Regions from separate parts of the Homo sapiens genome. Here regions 1, 2, 4 and 5 are each linked to region 3. The links come from fine-mapping of genetic effects on gene expression. A gene starts in region 3. Each other region holds a variant in brackets. All regions are shown on one strand. Distances are between the middles of the regions. Region 1 has its middle 4.2 kb from the start of SNORA40C. Region 2 overlaps RPF2 (ribosome production factor 2 homolog). Region 3 holds the start of RPF2 (ribosome production factor 2 homolog). Region 4 overlaps RPF2 (ribosome production factor 2 homolog). Region 5 has its middle 53 kb from the start of SLC16A10.

Region 1 (4,339 bases), 140 kb before region 3:
TTTCTGCCCATCTGGTGAGCAGCAGTACTAACTGCCTTTGTTCCACACTATGTTTTTACCAAGTTGTATAGCAAGCAGGCTTGGAAGATAAAGATGGTATATCCCTCCAGACCAGGGGGCAGATATGCTTACAGCATTGGAAGACAGGGATAATGACTATCTATGCTGGGGAGAAAAAGGCAGCAGGCTTAATGTCCATTATAAAACATTCTTGTTCTCTAAATTTGGGGATCCTTTCCTATAACACAACCCTCTGCATATACAGATGTCACCTGCCCCACTTTGTGTTTGGGACTTGGAGAACCAACACAAATGCTGACACTCTGACTACTGCTATTGCTTTGAGTAATAAACTGTCATTTGTCTCTGACCAAAGAGTAGCTTAGCAGTAATAGTAGTAGTAGTCGTTTTCTGCCAACATTCAAGCAACTGTGGCAGGCTAACCATGGCAGAGTAGAATCTCAGACCCTTCATAGTTTTTAATGTCTATGTGGTCCCAAACACTTTATGATGAAAATTAAGTTGGTCTTAGGTTGGTAGTGCCCTAGACAGCTAGTATAAGGAAAAGAAAATCCTCTCTGGAAGAACACCCTTCAACCTAGACCTCAAACAATTCCCACAGATATTGAACCAAAACTTTTAGTCAAAAGTCAAAAAACCACCAGGTGTGGTGGTTCACACCTGTAATCCCAGCAATTTGGGAGGCCGAGGGGGATGGATCACAAGGTCAGGAGTTCGAGACCAGCCTGGACAATATCATGAAACCCCGTCTCTACTAAAAATACAAAAATTAGCCGGGCATGGTGGTGGGCACCTGTAGTCCCAGCTACTCGGGAGGCTGAGGCAGGAGAATTGCTTGTACCTGGGAGGTAGAGGTTGCAGTGAGCCGAGATCGGGCCACTGCACTCCAGCCTGGGCGACAAAGCGAGACTCCCTCTCAAAAAAAAGTCTAAAAAACATATGCTTTTAGTCAAAAGTCAAAAAATGGCTGGGGTATGGTGGTTCACGCCTGAAATCGCAGCACTTTGGAAGGCCTGGGCGGGCGGATCCCCTGAGGTCAGAAGTTGGAGACTAGCCTGGCCAACATGGAGAAACCCACCTCTACTAAAAATACAAAAAAATTAGCTGGGCGCAGTGGTGCAGGCCTATAATCCCAGCTACACGGGAGGCTGAGGCAGGAGAATCGCTAGAACCGAGGAGGCAGAGGTTGTAGTGAGCTGAGATGGCCCCACTGCACTCCAGCCTGGGCGATAAGAGTGAAACTCCATCTTGAAAAAAAAAAAAAAGTCAAAAAACACACAAGAAAATAAAGTACTATGAGTTGGAAGCAGCCTCAAAAACTTCAGATGCTAGAATTTTAGATACAGAATATAAAATAAATATGTTTAATATATTTATTTATTCATTTATTTTGAGACAGGGTCTCACTATTACCCAGGCTGGAGTGCAGTGGCGCCATCTTGGCTCACTGTAGCCTCCACCTACTGGGCTCAGGTGGATCCTTCCACCTCAGCTTCCTGAGTAGCAGACTACAGGCGTGCACCACCACACCTGGCTAATTTTTGTAGTTTTTTTTGTACCGGTGGGGTCTTGCCATGTTGCCATGCTGGTCTCAAACTCATGAGCTCAAGCGATCTGCCTGCCTAGGCCTCCCAAAGTGTTGCGATTACAGGTGTGAGCCACGGAGCTCGGCCCCTTTTCCACTTTTAAGGACCTTTGGGATTATATTGGGCCTCCCCAGATAATCTAGGATAATCTCCCTAAAATCAGCTGATTAGCATTCTTAGTTCCATCTGCAATCTAAATCCTCCTTAGCTATGTAACCTAACATTTACAGATTCTGAAGATTAGGACATTGATATGTTTAAGGATTCATTATCCTGCCTCCTATAAGCAGTAATCCACCTATACAAGAATCCCAGGTGCAGTGGCTCACGCCTGTAATCCCAGCACTTTAGGAGGCCAAGTTGGATCACTTGAGCCCAGGAGGTTGAGACCAGTGTAGCCAACATAGCAAGATCCTGTCCCTACTTCAAAAAAAAAGAAAGAAAGAAAGAAAGAGAATTATAATCTTTTTTTTTTTTTGACTGAGTAGCTGGGATTACAGGCATGTGCCACAATGCCTGGCTAGTTTTTGTATTTTTAGTAGAGACGGGGTTTTGTCATGTTGGTCTCGCTGGTCTCAAACTCCTGACCTCAGGTGATCCTCCCGCCTTGGCCTCCTAAAGTGCTGGGATTATAGGCATGAGCCGCCTTGCCTGGCCAAGTTTAGTATTTTTATGATATCTAGATGAAGGCTTCTTCTGGGCTGGGTGTGGTGGCTCACGCCTGTAATCCCAGCACTTTGGGAGGCTGAGGTGGGCGGATCACGAGGTCAGGAGATCGAGACCATCGTGGCTAACACGGTGAAACCCCATCTCTACTAAAAACACAAAAAATTAGCCGGG[T/C]GTGGTGGCAGGCGCCTGTAATCCCACCTACTCAGGAGGCTGAGGCAGGAGAATGGCTTGAACCCGGGAGGCAGAGGTTGCAGTAGGCCAAGATCACACCATTGCACTCCACCCTGGGCAACAAGAGCAAAACTGCATTTCAGAAAAAAAAAAGAAAGAAAGAAAGAAAGAAAAAAGAAATACCTGAGGCTGGGTAATTTATAAAGAAAAGATGTTTCATTGTCTCAAGGTTCTGCAGACAGTACAAGAAATGTGGTGCCTGCATCTGCTTCTGGTGAGCCTCACGAAGCTTCTAATCATCACAGAAGGTGAAATGGGAAGCCAGCAAATCACATGGAGAGAGAGAGAGAGAAAGCAAGCGCAAGCACGAGACAGTGAGGAGGGAGGTGCCACAGACCTTTTTTTTTTTTTTTTTTTGATATGGTGTCTCACTCTGTCGCCCAGGCTGGAGTGCAATGGCATGATCTCAGCTCACTGCAACTTCTGCCTCCCAGGTTCAAGAGATCTCCTGCCTCAGCCTCCCAAGTAGCTGAGATTACAGGCGTGAGCCACCACGCCCGGCTAATTTTTGTATTTTTAGTAGAGACGGGGTTTCACCATGTTGGCCAGGCTGGTCTCCAACTCCTGACCTCAACCGACCCACCTGTCTTGGCTTCTCAAAGTGTTGGGATTACAGACATGAGCCACCACACCTGGCCCGGTGCCACAGACGTTTAAACAACCAGAACTTGCCTATCACTAAGGGAATGGTGCTAGACCATTCATGAGAGATCTGCTCCCATGACTCAATTACATAGTAAGCAGACTATCAAAAAGGGAATTTGGAGATTGAGTTGCTTACCTAACATAGCATAAACATGGTGAAATGAGTATATTAGCAATTCATGCAGGGCTGGCTTCATGGGCATACAGGCCAGGCCTTAGTCTCAAAAGGGACTCATACTGAGTTTAATACCCTGCTGTTGGGTCATTAAACTCCTAATAATTTTCTCTATTTAAGCTCTTGGACTTATACCAGCGATTTGCCAGGGGTTCTCAGGCCTTAGGCCAGAGACAGAAGGCTGCACTGTCGGCTTCCATACTTTTCAGGTTTTGGGACTCGGATGGGCTTCTTTGCTCCTCAGCTTGCAGACAGCCTACTGTGGGACTTCGCCTTGTGATCGTGTGAGTCAATACTCCTTAATAAACTCCTATTCATATATACATTTATCCTATTAGTTCTGTCCCTATAGAGAACCTTGACTAATACACCAGTTTTGAAACCTGCTGCAACATTTCAAAGAAAATATTCACAGGCATACAAATAAAAACAGATTTTAGGCCGGGCGTGATGGCTCACGCCTGTAATCCCAGCACTTTGGGAGGCCAAGGAGGGTGGATCACAAGGTCAGATGTTCGAGACCAGCCTGGCCAACATGGTGAAACCCCGTCTCTACTAAAAATACAAAAATTAGCCGGTGTGGTGGTGCACGCATGTAATCCCAGCTACTTGGGAGGCTGAGGTAGGAGAATCACTTGAACCTAGGAGGCAGAGGTTTCAGTGAGCTGAGATCGCGCCACTGCACTCCAGCCTGGGTGACAGTGTGACTGTCTCAAACAACAACAACAACAACAAAAACTGAATTTAAAGATTGTCACATTTAACAGAAAAGAACACTTTTCATGTGGAACTCAGGTGAAAAAAACATTAATGAGGAAGACAAATCTAAAATTAATTTTTTCCTTTTAATTGAATATACAGTAGAATGCATAAATAGCTATCCTGAATTATATACATGAAGCCACTTTTAATTTCTTATATGACTGACATCTACAAGTTACAGAAACTATCAGAGGAAACATTAAATGCCATTGTATAAATTAACATTTACGATTAAATTCAGACTTACATG
Region 2 (4,301 bases), 43 kb after region 3:
TACTTTTATACATACATAAATCTATGAGTAAGATGAAGAAGTCAAATCAAAGGATTTTATTTCATTTCTGAGAATAATTTTGTATCTCACTTGCTGTTTCTCAATAATATTGTATAATTTTATTTCTGATTTTTAAAAATAAGCAAACTGCCCTTGACCTCAAAGAGAAAAAAAAAATTTTTAATTTGATATTTGTGTGACCCTTTAGCTCAAAAAGGGATAAAAGACTTATAAAGAAAAGCCGGGCATGGTGGCTCATGCCTGTAATCCCAGTACTTTGGGAGGCCGAGGCAGGAGGATCATGAGGTCAGGAGAGCGAGACCATCCTGGCTAACACGGTGAAACCCCATCTCTACTAAAAATACAAAAAAATTAGCCAGGTGTGGTGGCGGGTGCCTGTAGTCCCAGCTACTCGGGAGGCTGAGGCAGGAGAATGGCGTGAACCTGGGAGGTGGAGCTTACAGTGAGCCAAGATCGCGCCACTGCACTCCAGCCTGGGGACAGAGCGAGACTCCGTCTCAAAAAAAAAAAAATTTATAAAAGAAGATGTGAACCAAAGGATATACTTGGCTTGAATAGTATTAAGTATTTAAGTAAGTCTTTCTAAACATTTTATATCATTTAATGGAATTGTAAATCCCCTGAACAAAAAATATTTGGTGGAGAGGACTTTTATGAAAGTCAAAGCAACATTTCTTTTTACCTATTTCCTAAAGGTTGCTGTTGAAGAAATCTGGTTGCAGAACACCACGGATTGAATTGGAAGAGATGGGACCCTCATTGGATCTGGTTCTGAGGAGGACACACCTGGCATCGGATGACCTTTATAAATTATCTATGAAAATGCCAAAAGCTCTCAAGGTATATAACTTAGAGCTTGGTACCACATTTATTTGTATTTTCTACTTTAATCCTTTTTCTTTCCAAAAAGAATTTGTGGCATATTATATTAAAAGACAAGGACAGGCCAGGCGCGGTGGCTCACGCCTGTAATCCCAGCACTTTGGGAGGCCGAAGTGGGTGGATCACAAGGTCAGGAGATCGAGACCATCCTGGCTAATACAGTGAAACCCCGTCTCTATGAAAAATACAAAAAATTAGCTGGGCGTGGTAGCGGGCGCCTGTAGTCCCAGCTACTTGGGAGGCTGAGGCAGGAGAATGGCGTGAACCGGGGAGGTGGAGCTTGCAGTGAGCAGAGATCACGCCATTGCACTCCAGCGTGGGTGACAGAGTGAGCCAAAAAAAAAAAAAAAAGACAAGGACATATATAAAGAGATCAATACAATAGATTAAACTAGGACTCACAGAGCCAGGAAAAGGAGAGAGAACCAAATAAGCCAACAATAAGGGATAATAAAAAAAGAGTTGCAAAACCCAGACATGAGGTTTGGCTAAGTGCCTTCTGATAGTCAAGACTGTTGTTTTCAGCAAAAGAAAGAGAGTTGTTTGGTACACTGTAAAGGCTAAGGATTTAGAGTACAGGGTATATAAACCATATGTGCATAAAATGTGTTTTGACTTTTTAAGTAGTTTTAAAAGACAAGAAGAAATGTAATCTCTAAAATGCCAATAGAAATTGAAACAATAGTCACAACTTCTTAAGCTAAACACAGGCTATTTTCTTGATGTGTGACAGTGGTTAGTGTAGTTTATAGTTTTGTTTTTCAAAGTGTGGCCTGACAGTTTACCTGGGAATTGTGCAGAATATCAGGCCCTACCCTAGACATACTGAATTAGGATCTGTATTTTAGCAAGATCCCAAGTGATTTGTATGCACACTTAAGTTTGAGAAGAAAAGTGTATAGGGCTATATACTGTGTCACTGAAGGGGCAGGCACTAATGGAAATTGCTACTAAGATAGTTGTTACAGACTAGATTTTTACTGGCTCATTATAGTAGAAGGCCATTAAATATATACATATTCTTTTATCGTAGCCAAAGAAGAAGAAAAATATTTCCCATGATACTTTTGGTACAACTTATGGAAGGATTCATATGCAGAAGCAAGACCTAAGCAAACTACAAACCAGGAAAATGAAGGGGTTGAAGAAGCGACCTGCAGAAAGGATAACAGAAGACCACGAGAAAAAGTCAAAAAGAATTAAAAAAAATTGATGGAACTTAGCCAGCCACTACTGTTTCATTGTGTTCTACTTAAGAGAATTATCAAGC[G/A]TCAATCCATTCAGAGTTTCTTATAAGATCTTATTATATATTTTTATAACATGATAATTTTACGATATATTATTATGAACAGTAATATACTAGTATTAAGTGTAAAGTAAGCCTTTTATTTGAGACATTACACCCTGGTGTGCCATTTTCTCTTGTGATATCCCCTGCCCTCCACAAATTCTTCTTTCTCATTGGGTGGATGGATGGGTGAGGAGGGATCTCCATAACCATTGGGATTTTTTTGAATTTCTGGCCTTAGCTAAAGAAAGCCACAGAAAGCCGGACCCGCAGGAGCTGTGTAAACAATCTCAGTATGAATTACCTGGAAAGTTAACCTCCTCTCCCAACATGGATCTACATTCTGATTTTTATTTTCTACTTTTATTTTGCCTGAAATCCTACTCGTTGACATTTGAGATTTTAAGCTTTGTGGCTGAAAATATATAGATCTCTGAGAGGGATGTCTGCTATCTGATTATTGATAAATTACACTACTGTTGATTGTTTTAAGAGACTCTACTACTAAGTAGAGCCCACCCCGCTTCTCTGAGACGAAACCTGTGTTTTTTGGTTGGTTTGTTTTTAAGAGATGGGGTCTTGTTCTGTCACCTAGGGTGGAGTGCAGTGGCACAATCACAGCTCACTGCAGCCCTGAACTCCTGGGCTCAAGTAATCCTCCTGCCTGAGCCTCTTACGTAGCTGGGATTACAGGCATGAGCCACTGAGCCCTACTTTTTTTTTTTAAAGCAATGAGGTCTTGCTGTGTTGCCCAGGCTGGACTCAAATTCCTGGGCTCAAGTGATCCTCCCACTTCACCTTCCTGAGCAGCCGGAACTACAGATGTTGGTCCACTGCACCTGGCAGAAAAGAAGTTTTGATAGGGGCAGAAATGAAAAAGGAGAAAACAGGTGAGTTTTAAGGTGCAGGGCACTTTAGGGTACTGGGTAGCCCTAGGTAGCTAAAGGTTGCATGAAGGCCCTGGGCGTTTGCAGATGGTGTAGAAGCCAGCCAAAGCCTAACTACTTGTTTTGAAAGTTTCTTGAAGACAGGCCTTGTGCCTAGGAAAACAGAAGCTTTCTTCTTCCTTCTACTAGTATTGCATACTTGTTTTTCTGGAATAGGGTGTTAAGTTCCTTGATTCAGTCCTTGACAAGGAATCTCCTTTATACAAGTGCCAGTAATGTTGTAAAGGTACAGACATACGCAAATCATAATTTGTTACATGAAGTACCAGTGCTTTCTTTTTTGTTGTTTTTTGAGACAGAGTCTCGCTCTGTCGCTCAGGCTGGAGTGCAGTGGCGCGATTTCAGTTCACTGCAACCTCCACCTCCCAGGTTCAAGCATTCTTCTGCCTCAGCCTCCCGAGTAGCTGGGATTACAGGCACCCACCACCACGCCTGGCTGATTTTTTGTAGAGACAGGGTTTCACTTCAATTCCATGTTAGAGAGCTCCGTGCCTGTGTATACATGCCTTTATGTAAGCTTGCTCAGCTACAGATCAACAATGCTGGCACTAAGCAAAAGTTCGAGCCTCAGCTTTACCTTCTACCCTTTCCCTTCTCTTTTGAATCCATTCCTTAGCTTTCCCTAGTCCTCTCCGGATAGCTGTTACTCTCCTCTTGCCAGAAAAATGAAGGAGCTGGTATCATTTATACTTTTTGTTTGATTATACGTTTAACCAAAGACCATACAGTCTCGTACCTGAATCAGACATTTGCACTTTATATCTAAATGAGAAGAAGGGGCTCAGATAAGTCGTTTGCTGCCATCTGGAGGTAGATGGACAATAGCTGAGAAGGGGAGCCATGAAAAGAACATCAGGAGTGATGGACGCATAGTCCTTCCCCAAAGCCTCGCTCATCACTGGTAGGAGGCAAAGCAGTGGGTCCTCCTCACCAGCCGCTTACGGGACCCTGCCATGCCTGGACCCCTCTATCAGGAAGACCTACCCCAGCACTACTGGAAAATCAGCCAATCTTAACCCAAAGATGGCCATGATTTCTGTATGTGAGACGTCTTAAGGGTGTTTTTGTTTGTTTTAATCAGCCCTCTTGTTTGAGATTTGGCAATACATTTCTGTTTTCTAGGTAATTTCTGTGTCTGATGGTAGAGGATCTAATAAGTATTG
Region 3 (4,339 bases):
TGGTGGCACGCGCTTGTGGTCCCAGCTACTCGAGAGGCTGAAGCACTAGAATCACTTGAACCCAGGAGATGGAGGTTGCAGTAACCTGAGATTGCATCACTGCACTCCAGCCTGTGTGACAGAGTGAGACTCTGTCTCAGAAACAAAACAAAGCAAAGCAAAACAAAACAAAAAAACACAAAGCAGCATAATCCATAATAGCCAAAAAATAGGAACCATTCAAATGTACATAAGCTGCCGGGTACAGTAGCTCACGCCTGTATTCCTAGCACTTTGAGAGGCCAAGGCGGGTGGATTACCTGAGCTCAGAAGTTCAAGACCAGCCTGGCCAACATGGTGAAACCCTGTCTCTACTAAAAAATACAAAAGTTAGCAAGGTGTGGTGGTGCGTGCATGTAATCCCAGCTACTTGGGAGGCTGAGGCAGAACTGCTTGAACCCGGGAGGTGGACGGCGCAGTAAGCCAAGATCGCACCACTGCACTTCAGCCCTGGCGACAGAGCAAGACTATGTCTAAAATAAAAAAAGTACCTAGGTTGATAAATGGATAAACAAAATGTGGTATATCCATACAAAGGAATATTATTCAGTCCTAACAAAATGGAAGTACTGATCCACGCTACATGTATGAACCTCAAAAAGATAGTGAAAGAAGTCAAACACAAAAGGCCATACGTTGCACGAAACCATTTATATATGTTCAGAATAGGCAAATCCATTGAACATAAAGTAGATTATTGGTTGCCAAGGGCTGGCAGGAGGGGGAAGTGGGGCATGGACTGCTACTGGGTGTGTGTGTCAGGGGGGTTCTTTTTGAGGTGATTAAATATTCTGGAATTAGTGGTGATATTTGCACATCTTTGTGAATACACCAAAAATCACTGAATTGTACACTGTAAAGGGGTACATTTTATGGTATGTGAAGTATATGGTAACTTAAAAACTGGGGAAAAATCACGAACAGCAGTACATTTTCTGCGCATCTTTTATGTACTAGGCAACTGTGGTAGTCATAAATTCTGTCACACAGATCGCATAGTTGTCAATAGTGCCCCTTTCACATCAATGTTTTTAGTGCTTATGTGAGTACCTACCGTGCAATCAATCAACCTTTCTAGCATCCTGGGATTCCTTGAAGAATAAAATCTGGTTTCTGAATACCTGACTCCAGGTATGCACACTAGCGCGTACATCAAACTGCGAGGGTCTATGTTATTTTATTTTATTTTTATTTTATTTTTGAGACGAAGTCTCGCTCTGTCACCCAGGCTGGAGTGCAGTGGCGCGATCTCCGCTCACTGCAACCTCCGCCTCCCGGGTTCAAGCAGTTCTCCCTGCCTCAGCCTCCCGAGTAGCTGGGGTTAGAGGCGCCCGCCACCACGCCCGGCTAATTTTTGTATTTTTAGTAGAGACGGGGTTTCGCCATGTTGGCCAGGCTGGTCTCGAACTCCTGTTATCAGGTAATCCGCCCGCCTGGGCCTCCCAAAATCCTGGGATTACAGGCGTGAGCCACCACGCCCGGCCAGTGTTACTTAAAAGTATTACCTCGCACCTGTAACTCCAGGAAAGAGCCGGGGCAAAAATCCGTAACCAAGACAACAGGGCGCGATTCCAATCAAGATGGCCGCCAGCGCCTCTAGACGCCCTCTACGAGGCCGTCCCCGGAAGTGGCGTTACGCGCAGCTTCCGGTTCCGCCTGTTCCGGCGCACGTAATCGCCGAGGGCACGTGCATGCCCCCTGGTTAAGAGTTGCAGGTAGCGGTAGCGATGGACACTCTGGATCGAGTAGTGTAAGTGCGCTGGGTCTCAGCCCCGGGGAGCGTTGGGGTGAAAGGGTCCCGTGATGAGGGTGGTACTGTCTCGGCCTCTCACTCTTCCTGGTTACCCCTCTAATTACCTGGGTGGGGGCCGATCGATCACCAGCCCGGGTCCTCCTCAGCGCGAGCTGCTTGCCAGGAGACAGTGGGGAAGCTCTCAAGTGGGAGCCGTGGGATGGGAGGGATGTGGGATTGAAGCGTTGGCCGCTTTTATCCTAGCCAGTTGAAAAACGTCTGACTTCCGAAGTATGAGACAGATGGTATAGTGGGGTTAGGAGCACAGCCCTCGGAATCCGACAGATCTGAGTGACAGTCTGGCGCGTCCACTTAAAGCTTTGTGACTTTGGGTCATTAAATATCTCTAAATCTTAGCTTATTCTGTAAAATAGCGCTCACCATAGTCATACTTCATAGAGCTGTGAGGGTTAGTTTCGAGAATGTATGTAGAGCCTTTGCTGCAGCACGTAGAAATGTTCATTAGTTTTTTCTTTTCCTTCCAACTTTGTACACTCCTCTGAGTTATCCTTGAATGATACCTGTTTTAAATTTGTTCAAGAATATTTGGGCTAAACAGCCCTGCTGTTACTTGCTGTGATTTTCTTGCTATTTACCTAAGTTAACATGTATCCAAAACGACAGTTTTAGTCATTCAGAGATTTTGCACACCTGCTATGCCTCTAGCTGTTTGGACTACAAAGAGTAGTTTACTAGGTATTGGGACTAGTTCACACGTTAATTGGGAGCAGGCAGCTAATAAAACATGTTAATTGCTATTTGCATTTGTTGCTGTTTAATGAGATACAAAAGATAGAATAATTTGTATCTTTATCAACCAGTAAATGATCAGAAGCTTTATATGTGACATTATATCTGGAGGAGTATTTTAAAAATCTACATGGGAAACTTAAGTGTATGTATGGTCTCTTTTTCTTCCCAAAGTGTCCATGGGACTGGACGAGGGAGGGTCATAATTATTTGGGAGGAAGAATTCTTTCAGTAGATGGCAGAGAACTGTCTGAAAAGCAAGGTGCTCATTGTAGAGGAAGCAGAGGTGAAGCCCCTCTTTTGAACAGAAGTGTGTAAAAACATGCCACTCCTACTGTCACATCATAAAGTCAGAATAATGAATTTATTTTCCCTTCATATTTTACAGGGTAATTGGTCTAGACGAATTTTTAAATCTAGCTTTAAAAAATTTGTTTTTTTTTGAGACAGGGTATCACTCTGTCACCCAGGCTGGAGTGCAGTAGCCCCATCACAGCTCACTGCAGCCTCGACCTCCCTGGGATCAAGCAGTCCTCCTACCTCAGCCTGCTGAGTAGCTGGGACTATAGGCGCACACCACCACAGCTAATTTTTGTATTTTTTGTAGAGACAGGGTTTTGCATTGTTGCCCAGGCTGGTCTCGAACTTCTGGGCTCAGTGATCCATCCACCTTGGCCTCCTAGAGTGTTTTTATTACAGGCTGTGGGCCACCTCCCAGCCCTAGCTCATTTTAAAAATTGGCCTGTTTACTTGCTGTGTGATCTTGGGCACATTACCTGTCTGTTCAATTGCCTCATCTGTAAAGTGAAGATAAGAATTGTAACTCGCGCGTGGAGGCTCACGCCTGTAATCCCAGCACTTTGGGAGGCTGAGGCGGGGGGGTGGGTCACGAGGTCAGGAGATCGAGACCATCCTGGCTAACACGGTGAAACCTCGTCTGTACTAAAAATACAAAAAATTAGCCGGGCGTCGTGGCGGGCGCCTGTAGTCCCAGCTACTCGGGAGGCTGAGGCAGGAGAATGGCGTGAACCTGGGAGACGGAGCTTGCAGTGAGCCGAGATCGCACCACTGCACTCCAGCCTGGGCGACAGAGCGAGACTCTGTCTCAAAAAAATAAATAAATAAATAAATAAGAATTGTAACTCTCAGGATTGTGGTGAAGATTAAGCCTTAATAGAGTGACTCCATGTAAACATCAGCCTTATTATTCCCCATTGTTGGCAATAATACTGGCATTCTCAGCAATGATGTTGGAGTGCAACAGTGTATACTTCCTGGCAGGCATTGTGGTCTTAAACCTAAAAGAAAAATAAGCAGTCGTTAGTCTTATGTTTAGTAAATGTCCACAGGTTGATCAGCAGTTGATGCTCAATTCTTTGTATTAGGGTACAGGATACAGTTTGACTACTTAAAGTTTGAAGAAAAAAGAAGAGTAAGAAAGAGTAAGAGAAAAAAAACAGCAACAGTATTTACTTGAGCCTTTTATTTTTTACTTAAAAAAAAGATTGGAAAGAGCAGTAATAAAAGAATGGTGGGAATACAAAAATGAAAGCTTTTTTTTAAAAGCTATCAAAACACTTATTTAACAATAATAAGGAAATATCTTTTACTAATATCTACCAAAAAAGTGAGATTTTGGCCGGCCCTTGTGGCTCGCACCTGTAATCCCAGCACTTTGGGAGCCGAGGTGAGCGGATCACCTGAGGTCAGTAGTTCGAGAATAGCCTGACCAACATGGCGAAACCCTGTCTCTGCTAA
Region 4 (4,339 bases), 38 kb after region 3:
CAGGAGAATCAGGCAGGGAGGTTGCAGTGAGCGGAGATGGCAGCAGTACAGTCCAGCTTCGGCTCGGCATCAGGGGGAGACCGGGGAGGGGGAGGGGGAGGGAGAGGGAGAGGGAGAGGGAGAGGGCAATTGTGGTTCTTGAGATAAGTGTGTGACTTCTCTTTTTTAAGGCGTTGGTACTGGCTGACAGAGCCCACAGTTTCCTAAAGAATACACTGACTCCCACAAATTGCCTTTCTCTGTACATTGAGTTTAGACTTTGCTGTACATTTTGAGCTATGGTGTGGCTGGTGTTGCAGCCTGAGAGCTGACAGCTTGGTGTTGACAGTGTCTTCTGTACAGTAGTGTTGTTTGTCCAACCATTTGTATCTAGCATTTTGTACATCGTTTTTATTTTGTTTTCTTCACAATGAAAATACATGACTGACCAGCTTTATGTCCTATGAATGTCCAAATGAAACTTAAATATTCACCTCTTAGCTGATAATTTCCATCTTGGGCTCAACTGTATTAAATCAGAGACATTTAGTTCTTTTTCTCCATATAATTAATACCACCGCTTCTGTTTTTCTGTTTTCCTCTCACTAAAAATAAATGAGGCAAAATGCAGTAAAATACCCAATGATCATAAGATGTAATTAGAGACTTTATAGTAATTTTTAGCTGGTTAAGATCGAAAGCCCCTTAAGTCTCCTGTTTGAGTTTCCATATGTGATTTGGGAGCTTCTAAGTATGTATTATACTATACAGTAGATGACTGTTATTTAGAGAACAAGAAATAAAAGATGAAAAATCACTAATATAAAAAAGTACTCAGGACGGACATGGTGGCTCATGCCTGTAATCCCAGAACTTTGGGAGGCCGAGGTGGGTGGATTGCTCGAGGCCAGGAGTTCAAGACCAGCCTGGCCAACACAGCGAAACCTGTCTCTACTAAAAATACAAAAATTAGCTGGACATGGTGGCACTGGCCTCCATGCTACTTAGGAGGCTGAGGCAGGACAATTGAGCCCAGGACGCAGAGGTTACAGAGAGTGGGCGGATCACTTGAGGAGTTCAAGACCAGCCTGGCCAACATGGAGAAACCCTGTCTCTATTAAAAAATACAAAAATTAGCTGGGTATGGTGGCGCACGCCTGTAATCCCAGCTACTTGGGAGGCTGTGGCATGAGAATTGCTTGAGCCTGGGCCACACGCCTATAATCCCGGCTACTCAGGCGGCTATGGCACAAGAATTGCTTCAGCTTGGGAGGCAGAGGTTGCAATGAGCTGAGATTGTGCCACTGCACTCCAGCCTAGGTGGCAGAGTGAGACTGTCTGAAAAAAACAAAACAAAATTAAACTTATGTTGGCTGGACACCTGTAATCCTAGCACATGGGAGGCTGAGGCGGGTGGATCACCTGAGGTCAGTAGTTCCAGACCAGCCTGGCCAACATGGCATAACACCGTCGCTACTAAAAATACAAAAATTGGTCAGGCATGGTGGTAGGCGCCTGTAATCCTAGCTACTCGGGAGGCTGAGGCTGGAGAATTGCTTGAACCCGGGAGACAGAGGTTGCAGTGAGCCGAGCACTCCAGCCTGGGCAACAAGAGTGAAACTCCATCTCAGACATAAAGTAATAAAATAAAATAAAAATTGTATAAAATTACCTTCAGGCTATGTATATAAACTGTATATGAAACATAAATGGATTTTGTGTTTAGACTTGGATCTCATCCCCAAGATATCTCATTATACGTATGCAAGTATTTCAAACTCTGAAAAAAACCAGAAATCTGGAACACCTTTCTTTTCTTTCTTTTGTTTTTTTTTTGAGACGGAGTCTCGCTATGTTGCCCAGGCTGGAGTGCAGTGACGCAATCTCAGCTCACTTCAGCCTCTGCCTCCCGGGTTCATGCCATTCTCCTGCCTCAGCCTCCCAAGTAGCTGGAACTACTGGCACCCGCCACCACGCCCGGCTAATTTTATTTTTGTATTTTTAGTAGAGACAGGGTTTCACCATGTTAGTCAGGATGGTCTCAATCTCCTGACCTCGTGATCTACCTGCCTTGGCCTCTCAAAGTGCTGAGATTACAGGCATGAGCCACCGCGCCTGACCTGGAACACTTCTTTTTTTGAGGCAGGATCTTGCTGTTGCC[C/T]AGGCTGGAGTACAGTGGCATCATCTCAGCTCACTGCAACCTCTGCCTCCCGCATTCAAGCGATTCTCCTGCCTCGGGTGGGTATGTATGCCCTCTGTGTTAAACATAGAGGGGATACAAGGGAGATAAAAATATAACGGTAAAAAATCATTGACAGTAAGAAATGAGTGGTAACAGTAGCCTAAAACTCTTCTGTGTTGAACGGTTTCGCAGAAAGTATTCACTTGTATTTAGTGAAAAGGGTTTATTTGTAAAGAAAGATACAGAGAAAATAAAACAAAATAGAGAATTATCAAGTCAGACTTTAGAGCAAGAATAAACTGGCCCAGCGTGGTGGCTCATGCCTGTAATCCAGTACTTTGGGAGGCCAAGATGGGTGGATCACCTGAGGTCAGGAGTTTGAGACCAGCCTGGCCAACATGGTGAAACCCCGTCTCTACTAAAAATATAAAAATTAGCCGGGCAACATGGTGTGCACCTGTAATCCCAGCTACTCAGGAGGCTGATGCAGGAGAACCCGGGAGGCAGAGGTTGCAGTGAGCCAAGATCGCACCACTGCACTCCAGCCTGGGTGACAGCGAGACTCCATTTCAAAAAAAGAGAAAAAAAAGAATAAACTAGCAGTAAGGCCGGGCACGGTGGCTCATCCCTGTAATCCCAGCAGCCCTTTGGGAGACTGAGGTGGGCAGATCACGAGGTCAGGAGATCGAGACCATCCTGGCTAACACGGTGAAACATCATCTATACTAAAAATACAAAAAATTAGCTGGACATGGTGGCGCATGCCTGTAATCCCAGCTATTCAGGGGGCCAAGGCAGGAGAATTGCTTGAACCACGGAGTCGGAGATTGCAGCGAGCCTAGATTGTGCCACAGCACTCCGGCCTGGTGACAGAGCAAGACTCTGTCTCAAAAAAATAAAAATAAAAACAAAAATAAAAAACTAGCAGTGTAACTATAATACATAGATCCACCAAAAATCTGATTGCTAGAATCACCTTTACACTAGCACGACATCTTTCATAATGAAAAAAAGTTTGAAATTTTAAAATCAGAGACCCTAGTATGTAATTTTGATCACTAGATGTTCCATATGTGCCTTGTAATACTTGTTAGCTATTAATTTGAAATAAAAAATGGACACTGTGATTGAGAGTGAGCTGCTACTTGAAAGAATCACTAAACATGTGGATCAGCTTAGCTTCCAGAGGCTGTGCCACACTTGGGGAGCATTGAGGATGGGAGGAAGGGGTGGTCCAGGGATTCAGCATCACCTCTGAGCCTACTGACCTGGCTCTGAGCTGGGCTCAGCCACGTGACATGGGCAGGTCACCACTTCTCAGGGTCTTTGTTTCTTCCTCTGTAAACTATAGCAATACCATTTAGATAATTCTGAGGTCCCCCTAAGATTGACAGTACTGCTTTATAAGAGTAAAGGGGTACTCATAGATGGGCATATACCAGAAAGTATGTCTGACTTAACTTGGCTCCCCAGGCATTCTTTGGGCTAGCTATACTGTGGAACCCTTTCCCTCGCTCTTACTGCAAATTAGCCCTTATGCAATTTGAAAATGGTAATATTTAATATTCACACACTTTATTTGTGAAGATAAATGAGGTTTATAAAATGGTTTTGAGCTTTTTGGATGAAAGGAACTCTAAACAGGAAATTATATTAATATAACCTTTAACATGATCTTTTGGGTGAATAAATCATAGTGTTATTGACCACTGTTCCTATACATCCTATAGTAATTATTCCTTGTATGTGAGTGACTATTTATATCCGTTGGGAAATTTTATTCACTATGGAGTCAGAGCCATTAATATGAAACAAAATCGTTAGTAATGCCACATGTGCCTTTGCACAATGGTTAGGCCTTATGGGGGGAAATATGCAAAACAAAGTGGTAGCATACTTTGAAAAGCAAACATAACATTCTAATTGAGGAGTTTACTTAATGAAAACAGACTTTCAGCCAGAGAAGTGTATGAGAGGGAGAAAAATGAGGAAATTACAATTTGAACAGTAGTGGTAATGTCACTCTTCCTCAAGAAATAGACAAATAATATTTAAAAATATGTAGAAATTACCAGTTAGCATATCTACCAGCTTGAGCCCATCTGAGAGAGAAAGAACTGGGTTCTGTTTGCAGATAACTAAAAGCTAGAGAATATTTCCTTAAATCAGTTTGATCTT
Region 5 (4,339 bases), 52 kb after region 3:
ATGCAGACTGGGTGGTCTTCGGAATGTCTGAAGAACAAAGAAAAGGCCAGAGGTTTTATTAAAAAGGAGAAATGTTATGTATTGCTCTTTGAGAAAGTTCGTTGGCACTGTGGGTTTGGGGAGCTGGGAGCTCTGATCGGTGAGCAACAGCAGAGGGCAAAATTAGTCCTAGAATTGTAGCAAGTTATCTCAGAAGCTATAGATAAAACTGGTTTCAGCTTACAACAAGCAGCTTCAGCAGCCAGGCTTGCAAAGAAAGTCTATTCTTGGAGCAATGCTTTGGTACCCTGAATGTTTTTCCTCCTAGCTTCTTGACTCTGTTTTAGTTGGATCTGACAAGAATGACCCAATTCTTATGGTTCAACTTTCACAGGACAATAACCAATCACTCCACATTTATCAAGCATTATTATGTTTCAGGCATTGGGAATAACACCTGACACTGTATATGTTTACAATTTAGAAAGCATTTTCTTTCTTTCCTTTTTGTTTTTCTTTTTCTTTTTTCTTTTTTTTTTTTTTGAGACAAGTCTTGCTCTGTCACCCCAGGCTGGAGTGCAGTGGCACGGATCTTGGCTCACTGCAACCTCCGCCTCCCAGGTTCAAGTGATTCTCCTGCCTCAGCCTTCTGAGTGGCTGGGATTACAGGCGCCCACCACCATGCCTGGCTAATTTTTGTATTTTTAGTAGAGATGGGTTTTTGCTATGTTGGCCAGGCTGGTCTGGAACTCCTGACCTCAGTTGATCTGCCCGACTCGGTCTCACAAAGTGCTGGGATTACAGGGGTGAGCCACCACACCAGGCCAAGCATTTTCTTTCAAATACAAGGAATATTTTTCTGATTTAAAAAAAAAAAACGAACTTTTTTTCTGATAATCAAAGGGAAAGTTGCAAAGATGAAAATAAAAGTCATCTGTAATCTCAGGTAATACCAGGTAATTAACATTTTGCTGTATTTCTTACCACTGAAAAAAATGCATAGTTTTAAGCTGGGTGTGGTGGTGAGCATGTAGTCCCAGTTAAGTGCCCAAAGGGTTCACTTTACCGGCTGCCTAGACAGAGTCGATTTACCAAGACAGGGGAATTGCAATGGACAAAGAGTAATTCACGCAGAGCCGGCTATGTGGGAAACCAGAGTTTTATTATTACCCAAATCAGTCTCCCTGAGCATTTGGGGATCAGAGTTTTCAAAGATAATTTTGCGGGTAGGGGCTTGGGAAGTGGGGAGTGCTGATTGGTCAGGTTGGAGATGGACTCACAGGGGGCGGAAGTGAATTTTTCTTGCTCTCTTCTGTTCCTGGGTGGGATGGCAGAACTGGTTGAGCCAGATTGCCGTCTGGGTGGTGTCAGCTGATCCATCGAGTGCAGGGTCTGCACAATAGCTCTGATCGTAGGTTTCACAATGGTGATATTATCCCCAGGAGCAATTTGGGAAGGTTCAGACTCTTGGAGCCAGAGGCTGCATGACCCCTAAACTGTAATTTCTAGCCTTGTAGCTAATTTGTTAGTCCTGCGAAGGCAGACTGGTCCCCAGGCAAGAAGGGGGTCGTTTCAGGAAAGAGCTATTACCAATTTTGTTTCTAGAGTCAAACCATGAACTGAATTCCTTCCCAAAGTTGGTTCAGCCTATGCCCAGGGATGAACAAGGACAGCTTAAAGGTTAGAAGCAAGATGGAGTTGTTTAGGTCTGATTTCTTTCACTGTCATAATTTCCTCAGTTATAATTTTTGCAAAGGGGATTTCGCCAGCTACTCAGGAGACTGAAGCAGGAGAGTTCCTTAAGCCCAGGTGGCCTTAGTATGCTATAATCATGCCTGTGAATAGCCACTGTACTCCAGCCTGAGTAACATAGCAAGACCTTGTCTCTAAAAAAATAAAAATAGGACCAGGCACGGTGGCTCACAC[G/A]TATAATTTCAGGAGTATTGCTTGTGGCCAGAAGTTCAAGACTAGCCTGGGCAACATATCAAGATCCTGTCTCTACAAACAATTTAAAAACTTAGCCAGGCATAGTGGTGCATGCCTATAGTCCTGGCTACTCTGGAGACTGAGGCAGGAGGATCATTTCAGCCCATGAGTCTGAGACTGCAGTGAGCTGTGGTTTTGCCACTGCACTCCAGCCTCGGTGATTGATAGAGTAAGACACTGTCTCTAAAAAATATTTAAAATATATATCTTTTAAAAAACCCCAAATTTAAAAATAAAACTATGGGGTTGGGCACGGTGCCTCACGCCTATAATCCCAGCGCTTTGGGAGGCCGAGGCGGGCGGATCACTTGAGGTCAGGAGTTTGAGACCAGCCTGGCCAACATGGCAAAACCCCATCTCTACTAAAAATACAAAAATTAGCCAGGAATGGTGACACGCACCTGTAGTCCCAGCTACTCAGGAGGCTGAGCCAGGAGAATAGCCTGAACCCTGGAGGCAAAAGTTGCAGTGAGTCTAGATCATGCCACTGCATTCTATCCTGGGCAACAGAGAATGAGACTCTGTCACAATCAGTCAATAAATCAATCAACAAAATACATAAAATAAAACTGTGGTCTTATTTTGAGTTCTGCTTTTTTATTTTTAAATACATATATAGCTAAAACCTACATGTATGGAAGTGTTCATAAGAGCAAAACATGACGAATTTTTACCAAGTGAACACACTTGCATAATTATCCAGATCAAGAAATAGAAATAATATCCTAAGTGAATTAACGTAAAGGAACAGAAAACCAAATACCACACTTGTAAGTAGGAGCTAAACAATTGGTACTCATGGACATAAAGATGGCAACAGTAGATACTGGGGACCGACTACTAGCGGGGAGGGAGAAAGGAGGCCAAGGGTTCAGAAACTATTGGGTACTGTGCTCAATACCTAGGTAATGGGATCACTCATACCCCAAACTTCAGCATCATGCAACATACCCAGGTAACAAAACTGTACATGTACCCCCTTTATCTAAGTGGGAAAAGAAAAAGAAATAGAAATATTGTAAAGACCGACAGAAGTCCCCTTGTACCTGCTCCCATCATTGGCCCTTGCCCAAGGGTTTACTAGGTGCTCTGCCCTTTATTTTTTTTAAGACAGATTCTCACTCTCCCTGGCTGGAGTACAGTGGCATGATCACAGCACACTGCAGCCTCAACCTCCCAGGCTTAGGTGATCCTCCCACCTCAGCATTCCTAGTAGCTCGGACTGCAGGCATGTGCCACCGCCCAGCTAATTTTTTACAACAGAGGTCTTGCCATGTTGCCCAGGCTGATCTTGAACTCCTGGGCTCAAGCAATCCTCCCGCCTCAGCTTCCCAAAGTGCTGGGATTACAGGTGTGAGCCATTGTGCCTGGCCTGCCCTGCTCTTTGAAATCAATGTTATATGTAAGCAGTTTCTTGTGTCATTAGTTATTTTTTAAACACTATTTTTGATGGCTCTGTAATATTTGATTACGTGGATATGTTATTTATTTTAGTCATTCTATTGTTGGGCATTAATGGCATTTCCTGTTGATATTATTATAAATAATATGATAAGCACAATCTTTTTTTCTTTTTTCTTTTTTTTTTTTTGAGATGGAGTCTTGCTGTGTCACCCAGGCTAGAGTGCAGTGGCATGATCTCGGCTCACTGCAACCTCCGCCTCCCAGGTTCAAGCAATTCTCCTGCCTCAGCCTCCCAAGTAGCTGGGATTACAGGCGCCCGCCACCACACTGGGGTAATTTTTGTATTTTTAGTAGAGGCAGGGTTTCGCCATGTTGGCCAGGCTGATCTCGAACTCCTGACCTCATGATCCGCCCACCTTGGCCTCCCTAAGTGCTGGGATTATAGGCGTGAGCCACCATACCCGGCTGATAAGCGCAGTCTTTTTTTGAAAGTGCTTTCACATGGTATTTTCAGTTGATATTTAAAATATTCCATAAACTGAATAGTGCAGGTGGTATTTTATACAATTTCCAGTCGAGAAAGCAGAGGCTTGGATTAAGTAAACTTGTCCAACGTTACACAACTTAAAGAGGTAAATCTGGGCCTAGAACTCAAGTCTTCTAATTCCTAATCTAGTGGATTCTCAGCAAGATGTCTTAAGTGTCTCACAGTATTCATGTGAATCACATGGAGAAATGATGTAACTAATCAGCACCCAGGCCAATTCATAGCAATTTAAACAACTACACCCAAAGGATATTGATGAATGATGAATACATCCATGGCATCCAGAAAGCAGATCTTTACTGACAAGCCTCAGGGCTGCTATTGACCTTTGTCTCTTTAAACGGTGTTCTTCCACTTTCATGAAGACAAAAAAAAGACACAAAGAAAAGTTCAGAACCTGGGGGAGAAATATACACATAGTTA

Evidence for each region. PIP is the estimated chance that this variant, and not a neighbour inherited with it, causes the effect.
Region 1: its variant is the best candidate, but not a certain one, in a credible set for the expression of RPF2 in whole blood (INTERVAL, PIP 0.53).
Region 2: its variant is the best candidate, but not a certain one, in a credible set for the expression of RPF2 in T cells (TOPMed, PIP 0.74).
Region 4: its variant is the best candidate, but not a certain one, in a credible set for the expression of RPF2 in monocytes (BLUEPRINT, PIP 0.68).
Region 5: its variant is the best candidate, but not a certain one, in a credible set for the expression of RPF2 in whole blood (TOPMed, PIP 0.65).

The regions. Positions count from the first base shown.
Region 1 is chr6:110,842,194-110,846,532 of GRCh38, forward strand. It overlaps a transcript of AMD1 not described here. Among named protein-coding and RNA genes, the nearest start is that of SNORA40C, 4.2 kb to the right of the region's middle. The variant T/C (reference allele first, on the strand shown) is at 2,448.
Region 2 is chr6:111,023,467-111,027,767 of GRCh38, forward strand. RPF2 (ribosome production factor 2 homolog) reads left to right here. Exons shown (of 10, transcript NM_032194.3): 9 at 717-861; 10 at 1,937-4,301. The coding sequence ends at 2,116. Among named protein-coding and RNA genes, the nearest start is that of RPF2, 44 kb to the left of the region's middle. The variant G/A (reference allele first, on the strand shown) is at 2,174.
Region 3 is chr6:110,980,341-110,984,679 of GRCh38, forward strand. RPF2 (ribosome production factor 2 homolog) reads left to right here and starts at 1,698. Exons shown (of 10, transcript NM_032194.3): 1 at 1,698-1,789. The coding sequence starts at 1,767.
Region 4 is chr6:111,018,118-111,022,456 of GRCh38, forward strand. All of the region lies in intron 8 of RPF2 (ribosome production factor 2 homolog), which reads left to right. Among named protein-coding and RNA genes, the nearest start is that of RPF2, 38 kb to the left of the region's middle. The variant C/T (reference allele first, on the strand shown) is at 2,141.
Region 5 is chr6:111,032,782-111,037,120 of GRCh38, forward strand. No RefSeq gene overlaps it. Among named protein-coding and RNA genes, the nearest start is that of SLC16A10, 53 kb to the right of the region's middle. The variant G/A (reference allele first, on the strand shown) is at 1,906.